Linked DNA regions of Homo sapiens: region 2 is linked to region 1. The links come from fine-mapping of genetic effects on gene expression. A gene starts in region 1. The other region holds a variant in brackets. All regions are shown on one strand. Distances are between the middles of the regions. Region 1 holds the start of FAM124B (family with sequence similarity 124 member B). Region 2 has its middle 110 kb from the start of AP1S3.

Region 1 (9,238 bases):
CATCCATGTAAGATGCGACTGCTCCTCCTTGCCTTCTGCATGATTGTGAGGCTTCCCAAGCCACGTGGAACTGTGAGTCCAATTAAACCTCTTTCTTTTGTAAATTTCCCAGTCTCCAGCCTGTCTTTATCAGCAGTGTGAAACAGACTAATACACAGAGTCTTGCTCTGTCATCTAGGCTGGAGTTCACTGGCACAATCTCGGCTCACTGCATCCTCTGCCTCCCTGGTTCAAGCGATTCTCCTGCTTCAGCCTCCCGAGTAGCTGGGACTACGGGTGCACACCATCATGCCCAGCTAGTTTTTGTATTTTCAGTAGACAGGGGGATTTACCATGTTGGCCAGGCTGGTCTCAAGCTCCTGGCCTCAAGTGATCCACCTGCCTCAGCCTCCCAAAGTGCTAGTATTACAGGCCTGAGCCACCACGCCCAAGAATTTTCTATCCTGAAAAATTCACTCCATTCAAAGAATCAAAAGCTATCTAGGAGCTACAATGTGTTGTCTTTGGATTATGGCTGAGCCTTTACACACTTTCCTCAGGCACTTTTATTATATGACACCAGAAGCAGAATTTTCCAGAAGGCGATCTCTCACTCTGTTTGCAAAAGCTTAGACTCATTGACTTAACAAGAGGAGATCAAAGCGTGTTTTGGAGTGAGGAAGCAGAAGTCTCTGAGGTTTGGAGGTCAGGACAAAGGTGATGTCCAAGGGGGCTATCAAGAGTGAGAGGCAGCTGGGCGTGGTAGCTCATGCCTATAATCCCAGCACTTTGGGAGGCTGAGGCAGGTGGTCACTTGAGGCCAGATGTTTGAGACCAGCCTGGGCAACATAGTGAAACCCCATCTCCACTAAAAATACAAAAATTAGCTGGGCATGTTGGCAGGCACCTGTAGTCTCAGCCACTTGGGAAAGCTGAGGCACAAGAATTGCTTGAACCCGGGAGGCAGAGGTTGCAGTGAGCTGAGATCACACCATTGCACTCCAGCCTGAGCAACAGAGAGAGACTCTGTCTCAAAAACAAAAGAGTGAGGGGCTGATGCCCCATTCACACCTGAGAAGTGGCCAGGCTCCTGGGACAATCCAGAGAGGAAGAGGGCTCTTTTCATACAATTCATGGAGTTTCTCTTTATCCAAAAAACTCTTCTACACTCCCCAAATGTGACTCAACTTTCCAAAGTAACTAAGTTGTTTAAACTGTGGTTCCATAGCAAAAATGTCAGTCAGCCTTAAAGACAGGAATGATTAAAATCATGTCCCTTGCTGCACACACACATTACATTTTTGTTTGACCATGAGGTTGATTTTAAGTACTAGAGAGTCGCTAAAACTGAAAGAAATTTTAGATGCCTTGGAAATTATGGGGTTTTATAATAGGCAACTAACAGAAACAGTGCCTGTCTACCTTATGTGAGCAAGAAGGTGAATAATTTAGAAATCATTTAATATGGAATATGATTCATGTTTTATTAACAAGTCAAAGTGATGACAACAAAATTAACCAAATGGAAAGACATCTCATCTTGTAGTCTCTTATTACTTTATTCAATAGGCCTTAAGGAGCTTCTGACCATTTCTTAAGGACAGAAGCCACAGGATATTTTGCTGTGAACATGACATTCATCCCCCTGCTTGCACATTTACACACATACACTGGACTGCAGCGGCTGACCACATGAACTTTGAGGGTAGATAGATACTTCCTATCTTGGGCAAATAACTGACCCCCTGGAAAGCTCAGTTTTCTTATCTCCAAAATGGGAAAAATAGTAACTTCATAGGTTGTTATAAGTATTAAATAAAATTATCAATTTAAGAGAATCCTTAGTATAGGGCATAATATGAACAATAATAGCTAAAATTGAGTTCTTGGCACTATCTTAATTATGTACTTTATAAGTGTCAGGTCATTTCCTGTAAGTAAGTATGAGAGAGGAAGATGCTAATTCTCGGGTGCCTTTATTGTGCTAATGAAGAAACTGAGGCCCACAGTCATACAGCTACTAAGTGCCCAGGCTCACATACCATGGAAAGGCAATGCACGGCAGCTATCATGACTAAATACACACATGCTATGTTAGGTTTTCGAGGATGGTTACAAAGGAAGGCTTTAATTTCAAGTTTTTTTAAGAAAGCATTCTATCTAACTTGGTATGTGGTAAAATTTGACAGTGATGCAAGATGCTTAAAAATTAAGTCAATACGAGTTGATGGGTGCAACAAACCAATATGGCACATGTATACCTGTGTAACAAACCTGCACTTTGTGCACATGTACCCCAGAACTTAAAGTATAATAATAAAGAATAAAAATTAAGTCAATAGTACTGCAAACTTAACATCCCTAAACAAGCTCGGCCAACATAGTGAGACCCCGTCTCTAGAAATAAAATAAAATAGCCAGACATGGCGGCACGTGCCTGTAGTCCCAGCTAATCAGGAGGCTAAGGCAGGAGGATCACTTGAACCCAGAAGGTGAAGACCTCAGGGAGCTATGATGGCACCACCGCACTCGAGTCTGGGCAACAGAGGAAGACTCCCATCTCTAAAAAATAAAAAAATTAAAAATTAAAAAAACCATATCTAAACATAAGTATGACTTCAACTTCCTTAAGTCAGATTAGAAGAGCTTGTGACATTCCTGAGCCCAAAGAGTAAACAAAGGATAGGGGTATAGTTGATGGGCATTTAAACGGCAAGCCTGAGAAAGGAGGCCGATTCTTTAATAGGATTCTGATCTTTATAGTAGAATCCTGTCTGATTCTACTATAAAGTACTTGTGTCAGCTGCAAATTCATGGAATCTGAACTTTCTTATCTGTCAGATGAGATTTTATGAGATCAGTGATTCTCAACCCTGTTACAGATTACAGTCATCCAAGAAGCTGTAAAAAAGTTACCTAGGCCTGGATGTTCCCAGAGATTCGGATCAAACTGCCCTGGGGTGGGAATTTATGAAAGACCCTAAGGGACGCTAATATGCAACCAAGTCTGAGAACCACTAGCTTAGGCCCATTCCGATGTAAAATTACACAGCTCCATGAGCCTCTACAAGATCTGAGACAAAACAGAAATACCTGAAGCAGAATCTTGTTGCCATCGTAGTCCTGAGTCTGCCACCTGGTGCTGCTGATAGGCATGCATGGATTGGGTAGCAGAGGCACTAACTGGCCGATCTCTTGAACCTTAAACTGCAGCACCGAAGACTCTTTGGGGTCCACTGACATTCCCGGGGGCAGCTGCTTCAGGGAGAGCTGCAGAGCAAAGCTCTTGGAGGCATAGAGCACGAAGAAACAAAAATTGCTCTTTTGCAAGGTCGCTTCTCTCTGCAGGATCATCTCGTAGAGTCTGATGGCGTCTTCATAGTTATCAAAACTGCAGTACAGCGTCACCCTCAGGATCTCGGAGCCACAGTGCACCTGCCTCACCCCCCAGATGGGCAGCTGACTGTCCAGGCTGTAGAACTCCTGATTGGCAAAAAAGTAGGGACACAGCCTTCCCCGAGTGTCCTGGGTGGGGTAGCACTGCCATGGCGAATGCTGGAGAGAGTCCAGGACGCGAAATAGCCTATCCTCTCCCGGGCTTTCGTGCAGGAAGAGCAACACGGACATCCCTGGAAACCGGGACCGCTTGGAATGGGACTTTTCACAGTATTTCACAGGACTGGCCCGTTCAGACACCTGAAAGAGCCGGACCTCTGGGCAAATGCAATCCAGGAGCTGGTCCAGAGTCCTCTGCAGAAGGGAGCCGTGCCCAGAGTTGGCAAGAAGATGGACAGTCATGGCCAGAGGCCCCTGTGTCTCATCCATGGAGGAACTGCCTGAGGCTGACAAAGACAGCGTGTGTAGAAGGCCCACTGTTCAAGTTTCTGAAATGAATGAAGAAGCGGCCCAGCCTTCAGCCCGCCTGAAAACCTTCAGCTGCAGCGGCTACTTCTGAGCAGAGCTCTTAACCAGACTAACACGTGCTCCTGGCCACCCGTGGACTTACGGCAAGAGAAGCTCACACCAGCTCGGGTTCAGCAGCCTCCCTCTCCACACAGCAGCAGCGGGGTCACGTCATCCAGCTTGTGCATAATGTAACTGCTTGTGTTTAGCCTTTTCAGGCGTTCCCCAGGGTTTCTGCGTGACCTAAAAACCTATAATCCTGAGAAACACCCAAATGGGCGGCTCTTATAGACACTTAGTACAGGAAATGACCGGCCGAAAAGGAACATGAGTTGGCTCTGTTAGGCTGATAGCAATCTGTTTAGTTGAAAAGACATCCATTTTATCAACTTACAACGGGTTCTCATTTCCTACTTACGGTTTACAGTAGCCTGCTCCACCAATCTGAATACAATGACTTCTTGAAAACAATTCTCAAAACCTGACCCTTTGCCAGTTTTTTTTTTCCTTTGTCTCTTTATTTCATTTTGTTTCTGAACATTTTCTGCTAGGGCACGAAGAGAAGACTTTATCTAAATAATTTTGACTTCACTGAAAATTATTTGCTGTACCGAAAATTCTGAGTGTACTAAAAAGACATTGAGAAAATTAGTCTTCCTTTATTCACGCAAATTCTTTAGAAAGAGTGAGAGCTTTCCTATAATTGCTCATATAATTATAATAATAAATAATTATAATTAACAATTGTAATTATAATTTTTAGTGTCTAATGAGGATCTACTATGTACCAGTCATAAACTGTTCTAATTCTTAAAGTAATTAGTTTTGTTTTGTTTTGGAGATGGAGTCTTGCTCTGTCGCCCAGGCTGGAGTGCAGTGGCGTGATCTTGGCTCACTGCAACTTCCACCTCCCAGGTTCAAGAGATTCCCCTGCCTCAGCCTCCCCAGTACCTGGGATTATAAGTGCGCCAACACGCCCAGCTAATTTTTTTGTATTTTTAGTAGAGACTGGGTTTTGCCATGTTGGCCAGACTGGTCTCGAACTCCTGACCTCAGGTGATCTGCCCGCATTGGCCTCCCAAAGTGCTGGGATTACAGGCATGAGTCACCACACCTGGCCCTTAATGTAAATTAATTTAATCTTGCAACAAACCTATGAAGAAGAGATTACTAGCCCCAAATTACAGATGAAGAAACTGGGGCATAGAAAGGCTAGGTAACTTGCCCAAGGTCTCACAGCTAAGAAGTAGCTGAAGGATGATTTGAACCCAGGAACTTGCTGCACTGCCTCTCTGGGGCCTTGAAGTCCCAGCCTGGGTATTCTTCTTGTAAGGAAAAGATATAAAAGCAAGTTCTGGTTAAGGATCTAGATTTGCAGACTCTTGAGCTGTTGAATCTTAAACGGAATAATCTTCAATGAGAAAGTTGTCAAGCTCTAAACACTCACCCTAAATGTGTTCTAAATATTGATTTAAAAATTATTTGTGGCCACGCATAGTCGTCACGCCTTGATCCTAGTACTTTGGGAGGCCGAGGCGGGTGGATCACCTGAGGTCAGGAGTTCGAGACCAGCCTAGGCAACATGGCAAAACCCCGTCTGTACTAAAAACACAAAAATTAGCCGGGCAAAGTGGAGCATGCCTGTAATCCCAGCTACTCAGGAGGCTGAGGCACAAGAATCACTTGAATCCAGCAAGTGGAGGTTGCAGATCGCACTACTGCACTCCAGCCTGGGTGATAGAGCAAGACTCCGTCTCAGAAAATAAAAAATAATAAAAATAAATAAATAAATAAATATTTTTAAAAAATCATTTGCTCTCCTGATAGCTGTGCTCCTCAACAGGTATGAACAAGCACTTTTTCTAAACACAATTCTTTTTAAAAGAGGCAATTGGACCAGGCGAAGTGGCTCACAACTGTAATTTCAACACTTTGGGAGGCCAAAGCAGGACAATCGCTTGAGCCCAGGAGTTCCAGGCTGTGCTGACCTAAATTCATGCCACTGCACTCCAGCCTGGACAACAGAGCAAGACCCTGTCTCAAAGAAAAAAAATGTACTTCAAAAAGAGCTGTAAAAAATTAAAATAAAAGAGGCAAATTTATGAATCCTTATAATGAAACACAGTGTGACAATTTTTTACATTAAAAAATACTTTTGTGATGAAAAATATAACAACTTTATATATCTGGATTCCTTTAATAGTATAACAACCTAATTTAAAGTAAAATATTATTATCCAAGAAAAGGAGTTATTTCTATTCAGATTCACTATGTAAATCTAACGTACAATTCTAATCATTTGTGTTTCATAATTCCTGTACTTTTTGCATGGGAAAAATACATAAATACAATTTATAACAGAGGAATTGTTTCCTAGTTATTGTGAGCAGCTCAGTAATTAAATTCATCTTGTTTCAACTTTTAAAAAAATCATTAGAGGTTTTTTTTTTTGGCATTACAAATCTCAAGCTTTTTTAAAAAAAACTCGACAGCATTCATGTTATGCATTGGCATTGGAAGCAGATAACTATCTCATCTCTCAGTGTGAACACTCTCCCTTCCGCAACCCTTCCATTCACAGAGCTGATTGTACTTTAGACAAAACTATAGTTTTTGAAATAGGCTTTGAAATTCTGGAAATAACTCTAAAGATTTGAGGAGAAAAATTGTTCCCCTGAAACCACGATATTAACTCACAACATTTTGCACAAGGTAAGTATTAAAGCTCTTACATAGGAAAAGATTTTGTTTCTTGATATTATCTTCCATCTAATGCTGAAAATACACTTTTTTCCTGATGAGGTTGTCATTTCTTTCAGGATTGAAAAGATTTCATTAATCTGTTGGCAGCCAAAGTGCCAACAAATCCAAGGGGCAGGAGGCCAGGGAAGAGGGGGACCAGCCTCATTTCTGACTGGCTGTCTCTGTGATTATTTCCCCAGGAACAACGTGAAATACTGACTGACCTTCCCCAAACTGCCTCCACCTTTGGTCACTGCCTTCCACCCACAACAAATGCCAGATTCTCAGCTGTGCAGCACAACAGTGTTTTAGCATGGTGCTTCTGTTGAAGGCACAGACAAAAATACTAAGGGAAATCATCAGCTTTGACTCTCAGCACCCGGACAGCTGTCACTCCAATTCTCTATCTTATTTTTCTTAAACTTGGCAGGCAATGATGCCCAGGTTTCTGCAGTCATCAGCTCCTGGATGGCAGATGGTTGGTCCACTCCTCACAGCAAATGGAGAGGCTGGTGATGAGTCGCTCAAGCAAACCTAGAAAATCCGAGGCTCCATTGGAACCCATGAAAATCCTCGGGGATTTGTCCTTTCTACAAAATACAATGGGATGCATTATAACCTCGAGATTCCCACCCACCCCCAACCCAGGAAAACTCTGAGAAAAAGTTCCTTTCCATCTTTAATTTATAAAATATGTTTATCTCACATGTCAAGAGCCAGGCGTTGCACCAGGAGCAGAAGATAGAATCGTCACCATCCCCCACTTTGGAGGGGCACCCTAAATGATGCAGTCAGTGCCATGATAAAGGGTGCTGCAGGATGTATGGAGACCCCATGGGGAGACACTGAGTTAGACGAGGGGGCCAGGACTGTCACACACTGGTGCAACTGCAAGCAGTTCAAGGTGGCTGGAGTGGAGGTTCAATGAAGAGGAGGGTGGAAGGAAGCCAGGGGCCTGATCAGGAAGGGCCTTGCAGAACACTTTATTTGAATCTGACCAGAACCACCTAAAAGTCAGTATGAAAAGGGAAGTGATGCTTTGAGGAAGCCACGGACACAGCAAGATATGCAGTCAAAGGACAGGTTTGTTGGCTGGTTGGATGCAGGCAGAAAACCGTGGTGGCTAGTCCAGGAGGCATTCCAGGGTGGTACTTGCAGATGTTTGGGTGAAGCTGTCAGTCACCAGATAAGGAATACTGGAAAGGAGGGCAGTTAGGAGTGAGGATGAGGAGGGCAGGGTGGTTGTGTTGTGCATGGATGCCCGTGGGATGGCCAGAGTTGAGATGTCCAGTGGCCTGTTCACTACAGCTTTGAAGGGAACAGTAAACCAGAGAATAGGAATTGGGGAACTGCTGGTCTTCAGGCAGCCATGGGAAAGGATGTGACTACCCAGAAAGAGAAGACACAACAAGGACAGAAGAAGGAAGAGGATAGGATTCCAGGAGTACCCAGTTTAAGAGACAAGCAATGTTTAAGTGGCACCCAGGGCAAAATGGAGAGTGGAGTGTGTTATGAGGACTTCAGAACATGGCTTTGGCTGGGCAGACAGCATCATTTAGTGTTTCAGGCTAACATTTGTGACTCATTTCCCCTTCTCAATTAGGCAAACTCAAAGAAGCAGCTGTCACCAAGCGAACCTCAGAGCCATTCAAGCCTCTGTTTTCCTCGTTCCCAAACAACCTTAACTCTGGTTCTTTGTGTGATACTCACTTGCTAACCAGGGGCGAGGCATTCTAGAACCTGGGGCACTACTTGGAGAAAAGGTGTGGAGAAGGGACCACATGGTGCTTATTTTTTTAACTCCTGACTGAAGCCTCTAACCCTGAACCTACAGCACAGGACTAAATGGATCTGTCATGAATGAAGGAATCTTGGCATCTCTTAAGGGATCAGAATCCCAGGGAGGCTGAGATACTTTCCCAACACCACACAATTGGTTATTGGCAGAGCCTGGATTTCTGGGTTTTAAACCATGCTCCCTCACCACTCCTAAGGGGACAATACCATGTAGCTATTCAGGTAAGAGTCATTTAGGCTCAGGACACATAAAAAGGAAAACCAAGATCCAAGGAGTAGGGATTATTCTCAGAGCCCTAACATTATTCCTGTCCCATGCTCTAGATGCCTCTTGTATTAGTGTACATTTTTATACTGCTACGAAGACATACCTAAGACAGGTAATTTATAAAGACAAAGAGGTTTAATTGACTCCCAGTTCCACATGGCTGGGGAGGCCTCACAATCATGGCAGAAGGCAAAGGAGGAGCAAAGGCATGTCTTACATGGTGGCAGGCAATAAAGCGTGTGCAGGGGAACTGCCCTTTATGAAACCATCAGATCTCGTGAGACTTATTCACTATCAAGAGAACAGCATGGGAAAAACCCACCCCTGTGATTCAATTACCTCCCACTGGGTGTCTTCCATGACACGAGGGGACTACAGGAGTTACAATTCAAGATGAGATTTGGGTGGGGACATGGCTAAATCATATCACTTCTGGTTAATGTGTGCTTCCCTATGATGGACACTCCTAAGCCAGTGCCATCCTTGTGCTCCGCCCTTCTCCCAACACACACACACACACACACACACACACACACACACACACACAC
Region 2 (9,238 bases), 680 kb before region 1:
GTAGAAGGCATGAAGAACTAATATTCCAGGGAAAGCTGGAACATCTTGCCAGGGTCAACTGAGGCTTCACTAAGGCAATGCCATTTCAGTTGGGAGCTGAAGATGGGCAGTTCCTAACCAGGCATGGAGTAGAAGCTAAGGCATGTTCCAGCAGGGAATGGGTCGTGTGCCGTTTCTGTAGTATCAGGAAGGTTGCTGTAACCAGGAGCCCTAAGAAGTGTTTCATAATAAACTTCACACAAATGGATTAGTAATTTTTGAAAGGCAAAATAGAAAAATGGGTCACAGCACTTAGCACAGAATCGGTACAAAATACAAACTCTGGCTTCTATTATGATCATTTTCCATTTCCACACACTGGCTCGCATCTCTCTCTGCAGAGCTGCAGTTCTGCCCAGCCATCATCCAAAGAGGTTTCCGAGGACAGCTCGCCTGTTCTCTCAGCCCCTATGCATATTCCCAAAAATGTTCCATGACAGAGCAGAAGTGTTCCTTGAATAATAAAACTAATTTATTGTTCACTCTATTTATTTATTTATTTATTTTTATTTTTTGAGACAGAGTCTCGCTCTGTCACCCAGGCTGGAGTGCAATGGTGCAACCTCGGCTCACTGCAACCTCCACCTCCCGGGTTCAAGCGATTCTCCCGCCTCAGCCTCCCGAGTAGCTGGGATTACAGGCACCCGCCACCCCGCCCAGCTAATTTTTGCATTTTTAGTAGAGACAGGGTTTCACCACGTTGGCCAAGCTGGGCTCGAAATCCTAACATCAGTTGATCCACCCACCTCAGCCTCCCGAAGTGCTGGGATTACAGGCATAAGCCACCACGCCCGGCCTGTTCACGCTATTAATACGTGTTAAGCAGGTACTGTACAGTCATCAACAGTGGCAGCCAACATTTGCTGAGTATGTGCCTTGCGCCAGGGATAACTTGCAGGGAGTGAGCTTTTTACAACAATTTCATGAGGCAGGTCTTTTTACTGCTGTCATTTTACTAATGAGAAGAGAGAGGAACAGAGAGGTCAAACAATTATTTTAGGTCAAATACCTAGCAAGTGGCAAAATTGGGCTATGAATCCAAGAAATCTGCTTCCAGAGTGTGAGAGCTTAATCACTGCTCCATAATTGCCTCTTTTAAGAAGGACAAAGCCCTCATTCACATGGAGGTCACAACTTACTTGGAAAGAAGCAAGAGATAGTGGAGATATAATAAACAAGTAAATAAATAAGATGGATAGTTTCAGTATGTGGTTAATTTTACAAACGAATTAAACAATGATATGATGCACAAGGACTGAGGGAGCCACAGAGACCGCTGCTTTAGAAAGGGTACCCAGAAATGCCTTCTCAGGGAAGGGACCTTAGGGCTGAGATCTAAGAGACAGAAAAGAAACAACTTCAGAAGAGGTAGAGCTAGGTGCGGTGGCTCACGCCTGTAATCCCAACACTTTGCGAGGCCGAGGTGGGTGGATTACCTGAGGTCAGGAGTTTGAGACCAGCCTGGTCAACATGGTGAAACCTCGGCTTTACTAAAAATACAAAAATTAGCTCAGTGTGGTGGCACACGCCTTAATCACAGCTACTTGGAGGCTGAGGCAGGAGAATTGCTTAACCCTGGAGGCGGAGGTTGCAGTGAGCTGAGATCACGCCATTGCATGCCAGCCTGGGTGACAAGAGCAAGACTCCATCTCAAAGTAAATAAATAAATAAATAAATTATTTTAGCTTCTCATGGATTTCATAATACTTATCTCTGAAAACATTTTGACTGTAAATTTAGGAATTAGGATGCAAGATCCCACATGTCCTCTAATCTAAAGTTGCATCGTTGGTCTGAAAATAGAGTTGAGCTTAGTGTTGACTACTTAGTATTGTTGCATGGACCAGTTGTTATGAAGACCAATAAATCATTGTTTTCTTATGTAAAATACAGATACATAATATTTTATAGGTAATATTTAATAAATTGCCTGAATAATTTTTTTTTTTTTTTTTTTAGATGGAGTCTCGCTCTGTCACCCAGCCTGGAGTGCAGTGGCGCCATCTCGGCTCACTGCAAGCTACGCCTCCCGGGTTCCCGCCATTCTCCTGCCTCACCCTCCCGAGTAGCTTGCTGGGACTACAGGCGCCCACCACCACGCCCGGCTAATTTTTTTGTATTTTTAGTAGAGACGGGGTTTCACCATGTTAGCCAGGATGGTCTGGATCTCCTGACCTCGTGATCCGCCCGCCTCGGCCTCCCAAAGTGCTGGGATTACAGGCGTGAGCCACCGCGCCCGGCTGCCTGAATAATTTTTTAAGAAGAATTTTATACGAACCTTCCTTTGCAGCATGCATACATCATAGTGAAGCGGTTTTGTTGTCTGTGGTAAATACCCGGGGTTTGTCCTGCCATGCCAGGAAAATTTAGGACACAGACACACATGAGGAGTTTAGGAGCAGAGGCTTAATAGGCAGAAGAAAGAGAAAGGAGAACAGTTCTCTCTCCAGTGAGAGAGAAGTGCTGCGGAGAGAAAAGACTGGTCGGCAGCAGAGTTCACTGGATTTTATAGGCAGGCTTGAGAAGGCAGTGTCTGATTTACATAGGGCTCACAGATTGGTTCGATCAGGTGTGATGTTTACATGGCATGCGGAGAAGGCTGGTCACCACCCCCATCCTGCCTATCTTATTATGCAAATGGGCTTTCAACTTGGCTGGTGCCATCTTGTCTGCTCCTTACTGTACACGTGGCTGGCAAAGGGAAGGGAAGATGAAGCTGCCATTTTGAACATGCCTAGTCCCAGATAGTGCTTTTCTACTGGGATTCATCCCTGCAATCTTCCAGCTTGCTTGTCTATGTCTGCAGCTTGATTTTACAAGCTGTTGTTTGTTAGAAAATGATTTGGGGCTGCTTTTCATTAAAAAGGAAAATCTTATCGAGGACTCCAGTACCCTCACTATCTGCCTAAGTAATTTCTTCTTAACTCCTATATCAATAGAAGTCAAGAGTAAAATAAGAGAGACTAGAGTGACTGCTGTCCACCCAGTGAGAAAGGAGCATGGTTTATTCTAGGGTATTCACAGTGGAAATAGAGAGAAAGAAACAGAGAAAGAATTTGTCTTAATACCAAATTGTATCTCATGGGGGATGAAAAGAACAGAGGATTCAAGGATGACGCCTAGACTTTTTGGCTTAGATAACTGTAAACGGTAGTCCCTCCTAAGGGAGACAAGGGAGGAGCATGCTTGAGGTGAAAGTCATGAGTTTGAGTTCGAATGTGAAGTTTGAAATACCTACCAGAACTTCACATAAAAGTGTAAAGCACAAAGTTATATATGTGAAGAAGGAGAAGGACTAGAGATAGAAATCTAATTAAGAGTCATGGACGTAGATCGTGTATAAAGCTGTGGAGATCGCCTAAGAGACGGAAAAGGGAAGAGGGCTCAGGCTGCAGTTGCTAGACTTCTCTGGCTAATTCACCATGCCTCTGTGCATCTCAGATTCCCTGTCAGTTCACTGCAGGCAAAGCAATAAGGATACATCCTGTCTCAGGCTGGAAGGATGTAGGACTCATACTCTTCCTTTTGCTTCATTCTTGTTTCCCTGCATTTCTGGCAGGTAAGGAGATATTTTTATTCTTTTCCCTAACAGATTCTCAAAAAAGATCAAATGATTGCTGAGGGCTTCCTGGAGCAAAAGAGACAATCATTCTTAGCTCACAGTTCAACTTTCCTTCCATTGAATCCCACACATGTACCCCTGCAGATAAAGCTTCAGAAAGGGCCTTATTCATTTTCCTTTCACAATGTTCATGATAGTAGGGCCAGCAATGTTACTAACCTCTTTATGTAAACCCAATAAATTTGATTTGACATTTGAGCATGGAGAAGTAAATAGGCACAAAACCTTATCTACCAGTCACATAATCGTATCTGAAAATTCAGTTTCAACACCAAGATTTAAGAGAACCCAGCAGATCTTTTCGTCAATGAATCCACAAGTATTTACCGGGTGCCCTTGGGGTGCCTGGTACTGGATGCAGCTGCTTTTGTGAGCAAGCCAGCAGGTTCTCTGCCATGAAAATAGAAATTTAATCACTTGTCCATCCAAGCATTTCCCTTCAGCTTTTCCAGGATGCTTTTTTGTGAATGACTAACAGAATAGCTGCTGCAAAGACAGCCTGCAAATTCCAGCCGGAGGCCCTGGGAGGAAAGATGACTCACCCACGCCTGACGTCAAAGCCTCCCTTTCTTTCAGAGGAGTAGGAAGAGAATGGCAATGGCCTGGGTAGAATGACCTAAATGCCCTCCTGAGTCCTGTGTGGGTCCTGCTTCCTCTTCCCCCACCTGGCAATGATGATTTCAAACCAAAGAAAGTTTAAACTGTCAAACTTGAACTTCACTGTCAAGTTAACTAAAAAACTAGAAACAGAAGCCTTCCTTCCTGTCAAACAATGTCAAATCCTTATTATGAGTTCTTTTTCACTGGAAAATATTGAAAGCATTTCTTTTTTTTCACAGAGTGTTTTATATTGATTTGCATCTTAGTCTGTTTGAGCTGCTATAATGAATACCATAGACTGGGTGGCTTCAACAACAAACATTTATTTCTCATCATTCTGCAGCCTGGCAAGTCTGAGATCAAGTTGCTGACAGATTTCGTGTCTGGTGAAAGCCCTCTTTCTGGTTGGCAAGTGGCTATCTTTTTGTTGTATCCTCACTTGACAGAGAAGGGGTTGGGAGGAAGGAGAGCACACTAATCTCTTTTTATAAAAAACACTAATCCCATCCTGGGGGCTCCATCCTCATGATCAACTCACTACCCGCCAGCGGTCCCACCTCCAACTACCATCACAGTGGAGGTTAGGGTTTCAATATATGAATTTGGGGTTGCATTCCATAACAATTTGCTTACAACATCTCAACAGTGGCTGAGCGTGGTGGCTCATGCCTGCAGTCCCAGCACTTTGGGAGGCC[G/A]AGGCGGGAGAATTATTTGAGCCCAGGAGTTTGAGACTGGCTTGGGCAACATAGTGACACTGTGCCTCAGAAAAGGAAAGAAAGAAAGAGAGAAAGAGAAAGGAAGGGAGAGAGAGAGAAAGAGAGAGAGGGAGAGAGAGGGAGGGGGGAGGGGAGGGGAGGGGAGGGGAGGGGAGGGGAGGGAAAATCTCAACAATGACCTTTTCCAGTCTGCCTTTCACATCAGGATTTCCAAGGACTTTCCCAGATTATGCAAAGGGCCATTTCACTGTTCACTGTGTTCGTTATTCAAACAGAGCTTCAGGTATGTCAGGGCACCCACGGGGTACCATCATCCAACAAAGCTCTGACATCCCTGTGCAAATAGTCAAATTTCAAATTTGTCCTTGGAAACTTTTTGGTTGTCACACAATTCAGCCCCCAGGTATTTGTCCTGGGGTCTCCCATGTAAGCTATTCTCTAATTTAGTAAGCCCCTGAGCAGTGTCATCGAATTCATTCTAAATCTTTCTCTTTTCAAGGAGCCTGGATAGCTAATTCACCAGCGAAACCTAAATTGTTTACGACCACCACAAATGGGCTATTTACCTCTGAAGTCCTGATGCAAGTCATATGTCTGGCTACTCCAGCACCTACTAATCACTCAGTTCTTTGAATTTTTATTGCATAAGAGTCCTTATCCCTCTTTTGGGCATTTTTGGATATATTAACTTTTCATTGCATCGTACAATTTGTTTTGCAGCTGTTGAGGGTGATAGATAAACTTACTTAATCACCATCTTAATTTTTGCTTTTGGTTTTTAACTCCGAGTACCCATCGCAATGCCCTAAACTAAAGGTTTACCCAGTAAGAGTTTATTAGGTTGAAATGAACTTACATTTTGGTAATTCTTGGAACTATAGTCTAATGGGATAAATTTAATGGTAGCATTTCAGACGTTATAGCAGATGAGCAGCAAAGATAATTTGAGATTACAAGGACTTTTGGAACCCCCAAACATAGCCACATATATGCTATTGATGTGGAATGCTGGCCCTAATTAGTTTGATGCTGGTCCTGCCCCAATTCAGGCCTCAGTGTAATATTATCACCCAAACTCACACAGGACTGTTCAGTAACAGGAAACCAATTATAAGGTACCAAATTAGAATGCGAGAAGGACTTGGCCTATGAACTCTTACACCAGCAGAGGGCACTTCCTTCTAGCATGCAAGTCGGCTAAGGAAAGCAAATTAGAATGAGAAGATGCCTGATGACTGCTGGATACGAGTTACACAGAGATATTTTCCAATAAGCTATGGAAAGCAAATGAATGGCCCTTTCCTTCTCTAGAAGGATAAATCTTTGCTCACTTGGAATTGGAATCCCAGTCCTTTGGGAAATGCTTAGAGTAAGCTGATAAATTCTTATTCTCTGACTCCCTTTCTAAAGTTTATATGAACCGGCCGGGCACGGTGGCTCACGCCTGTAATCCCAGCACTTTGGGAGGCCGAGGTGGGTGGATCACAAGGTCAGGAGTTCGAGACCAGCCTGGCCAAGATGGTGAAACCCCGTCTCTACTACAAATAAAAAATTAGCCGGGCGTGGTGGCAGGCGCCTGTAGTCCCAGCTACTCGGGAGGCTGAGGCAGGAGAATTCCTTGAACCTGGGAGGCGGAGGTTGCAGTGAGCCAAGATTGTGCCACTGCACTCTAGGCTGGGTGACAGAGCGAGACTTCATCTCAAAAAAAAAAAAAAAGTTTATATGAACCTACATCTTCTGAGTTCCACATTTTCATCTATTTCAAATCTCCTTGTCTTTCCCCATTGTCTTTAAGGGGACATCCCTGTACTGTTATTATTATCACTCATACTGAGACTCTGCCTGTTTTAATCCTGGGGAAAATTTCAATCAAGCGTTTGTCTGATAGCCTTTTAAGTCTTTCTGATATTCAACCCGGAGTCTCCCAAATTCGGGTGTACACCAAGAAAGTGAGGGATTTCTAGGAGTTCATGCTAAACAGATTCAAACTCCAGGCATCTACTGGGGGAAAAAAGGCGGTGTTATAAATAATTATTGTGGATCAGAAATAGACAGATTGTTCTTGGTTATTATAATACAGGGGATTATAATTTGGGTGCAGTAAATCCCCAGATGAAGCATGGGGTAAGTGTTGGAGGCATGCTGGCACTTCGATTTTAGTTCTGTGGAACTCAACTTGTGATGGTAGTAATAATAATCCCAATTACAAAAACTGAGGTACAGAGAAGTTAAATAACTTGAGTAATATCACAGCTTGTGATAAAGCTAAGATTTGAACTAAGTTCAGTCTGGCTCAGAAGTTTCTCTGCACTTCCCGCTGTTATCTTGGGCCCAAGTGTTGCTGCCTCTCAACTCCAGGAACCAGCAAACATATTTCCATGGACTAGCTGTTTGTTTTCGGTAGGTTTTTCATCTCTGTCAACAGTGGTTTTAAAGTAAAATAAGAAAAGTGAGAGTTATCTGCATGAAATATATCTTCAATTTTCTTGAATGTCTTTTCCTCTTGTGTATTTACTTCCTTATCCCATTCCTGAAATAAATCAAGTCAACTAAACTTTGCAACATAGTGTGTATAAGCTGATCTTCCTACCGCCTTGAATGAACTTTCATTTTCTGGCCCCACCATCTGTCCAACGTACTTCCCACTGTGCTTTCTCTCCTTCTTCTCTTCTCAGAGGTCTGAATGGCAATTCTTTAGGGCCCTCGTCTTAGTCCTGAAACTCCTCAGAGGCCGAGGCCACCCCTGGAAGGTTCCTGCTCCAAGTTTCTAGTTTCCAATAATCCCAACATCTTGCCTTTGTGTCCTAAAAGTGACAACTGCTTTATGCTGTCAATGCCTCTGTGATACATCAGGATTCCCTTTTAGCTATTTAAGTTCTCTATCCTGGGCCAGGCATGGTGGCTCATTCCTGTAGTTCCAGCAATTTGAGAGGTGAGATGAGAGGATTGCTTGAGGCTAGGAGTTCAAGACCAGCCTGGTCAACATAGCAAGACCTCATTTTTGCAAAAAAAATTTTTTTTTTCTTTTTGAGACAACGTCTCCAGCTCAGGCTTGAGCGCAGTGGCATGATCTTGGCTCACTGCAACCTCCGCCTCCTGGGTTCAAGCAATTCTCCTGCCTCAGCCTCCCCAGTAGCTGGGATTACAGGCGCCCACCACCACACCCGGCTAATTTTTGTATTTTTAGTAGAGACAGGGTTTCACCATGTTGGCCAGGCTGGTCTCGAACTCCTCTGACCTTAGGTGATCTGCCCACCTCAACCAAAATTTTTTTTTAATCCTTTATTCTGTTTAGCCAATTCTTTATATTAAATTCTGTTAAAATAACTGATATCTGTTTTTATGACAGGATCCTAACTATACAGTAATGGTTATAAGGAATTGGAATTCTCTGCCCTCCTCTGGCTCACATATGTCTTCCTAAGGCATCTGAAGTATGCGATATTCCCTGTTCATCTCAATCCAGTCAGCACAATGTCATCAATGCTGTGGACTAGCATGCTATTCTTTGGAATGTCAAAATAATCAAAATCGCTGCAGATACAATATGGCAGACAGTAAGAGAGCTGACATGGCCCTGTGCATACACTAAGAAAGTATACTCTTTGCCCTATCAGGAAAAAACAAACTCCTTCTGGCAGTCTTTGCAAATTGGTGTGGAGGAAATAGCATTTGCTGGGTCAATCACTTCATATCCAATTCCAGGGGCTACAAGGTTTTTATTAGTAAATGTAGTGTATCTGGAACAGATGCTACAACTGGATTCACCATCTGAGTAAGTTTATGAAAATCCACAGGCATTTTCTAACATCTGGCTTTCTTTTGCACAAGGCAAAGTAAATGTGAATATGACAAATGTCACCACCCCTGCATCTTACAAGTCTTCCAAAAGGACCTTGAGGTCCTTTTGGAAAAAGGCTTAGAGGAATACTTAGAGTATATACTTGTAACTGTGTGATGTGTGTGTGTGTGTGTTCAAATCAAACAATAATTCTATCTTATGAGAATCTACTATATATGGGGCATTGAGTAAAAAAAGAAAAGATCATGAGACAAGGAAGCTGCCCTCGAGTGATTTTTTGCTGGGAGTGATTGACAAGTAGAAGTAAGTGCAGACAGATAAATTGTAACACAATCATCAAGTGGCGTAATACAGTACAAAATTAAGTGGCAAGGAGCATTTTATATAGGAATGGCACAGGCCGGGCACAGTGGCTTAGGCCTGTAATCCCAGCACTATGGGAGGCTGAGGAGGTCGGAT

What was found. PIP is the estimated chance that this variant, and not a neighbour inherited with it, causes the effect.
Region 2: its variant is fine-mapped to the expression of FAM124B in left ventricle (GTEx, PIP 0.96).

What each region holds. Positions count from the first base shown.
Region 1 is chr2:224,397,965-224,407,202 of GRCh38, forward strand. It overlaps FAM124B (family with sequence similarity 124 member B), which reads right to left and starts at 4,143. Exons shown (of 2, transcript NM_001122779.2): 1 at 3,073-4,143. The coding sequence starts at 3,804.
Region 2 is chr2:223,721,541-223,730,778 of GRCh38, forward strand. No RefSeq gene overlaps it. Among named protein-coding and RNA genes, the nearest start is that of AP1S3, 110 kb to the right of the region's middle. RefSeq lists enhancers at 3,755-4,954, 4,650-5,317. The variant G/A (reference allele first, on the strand shown) is at 4,957.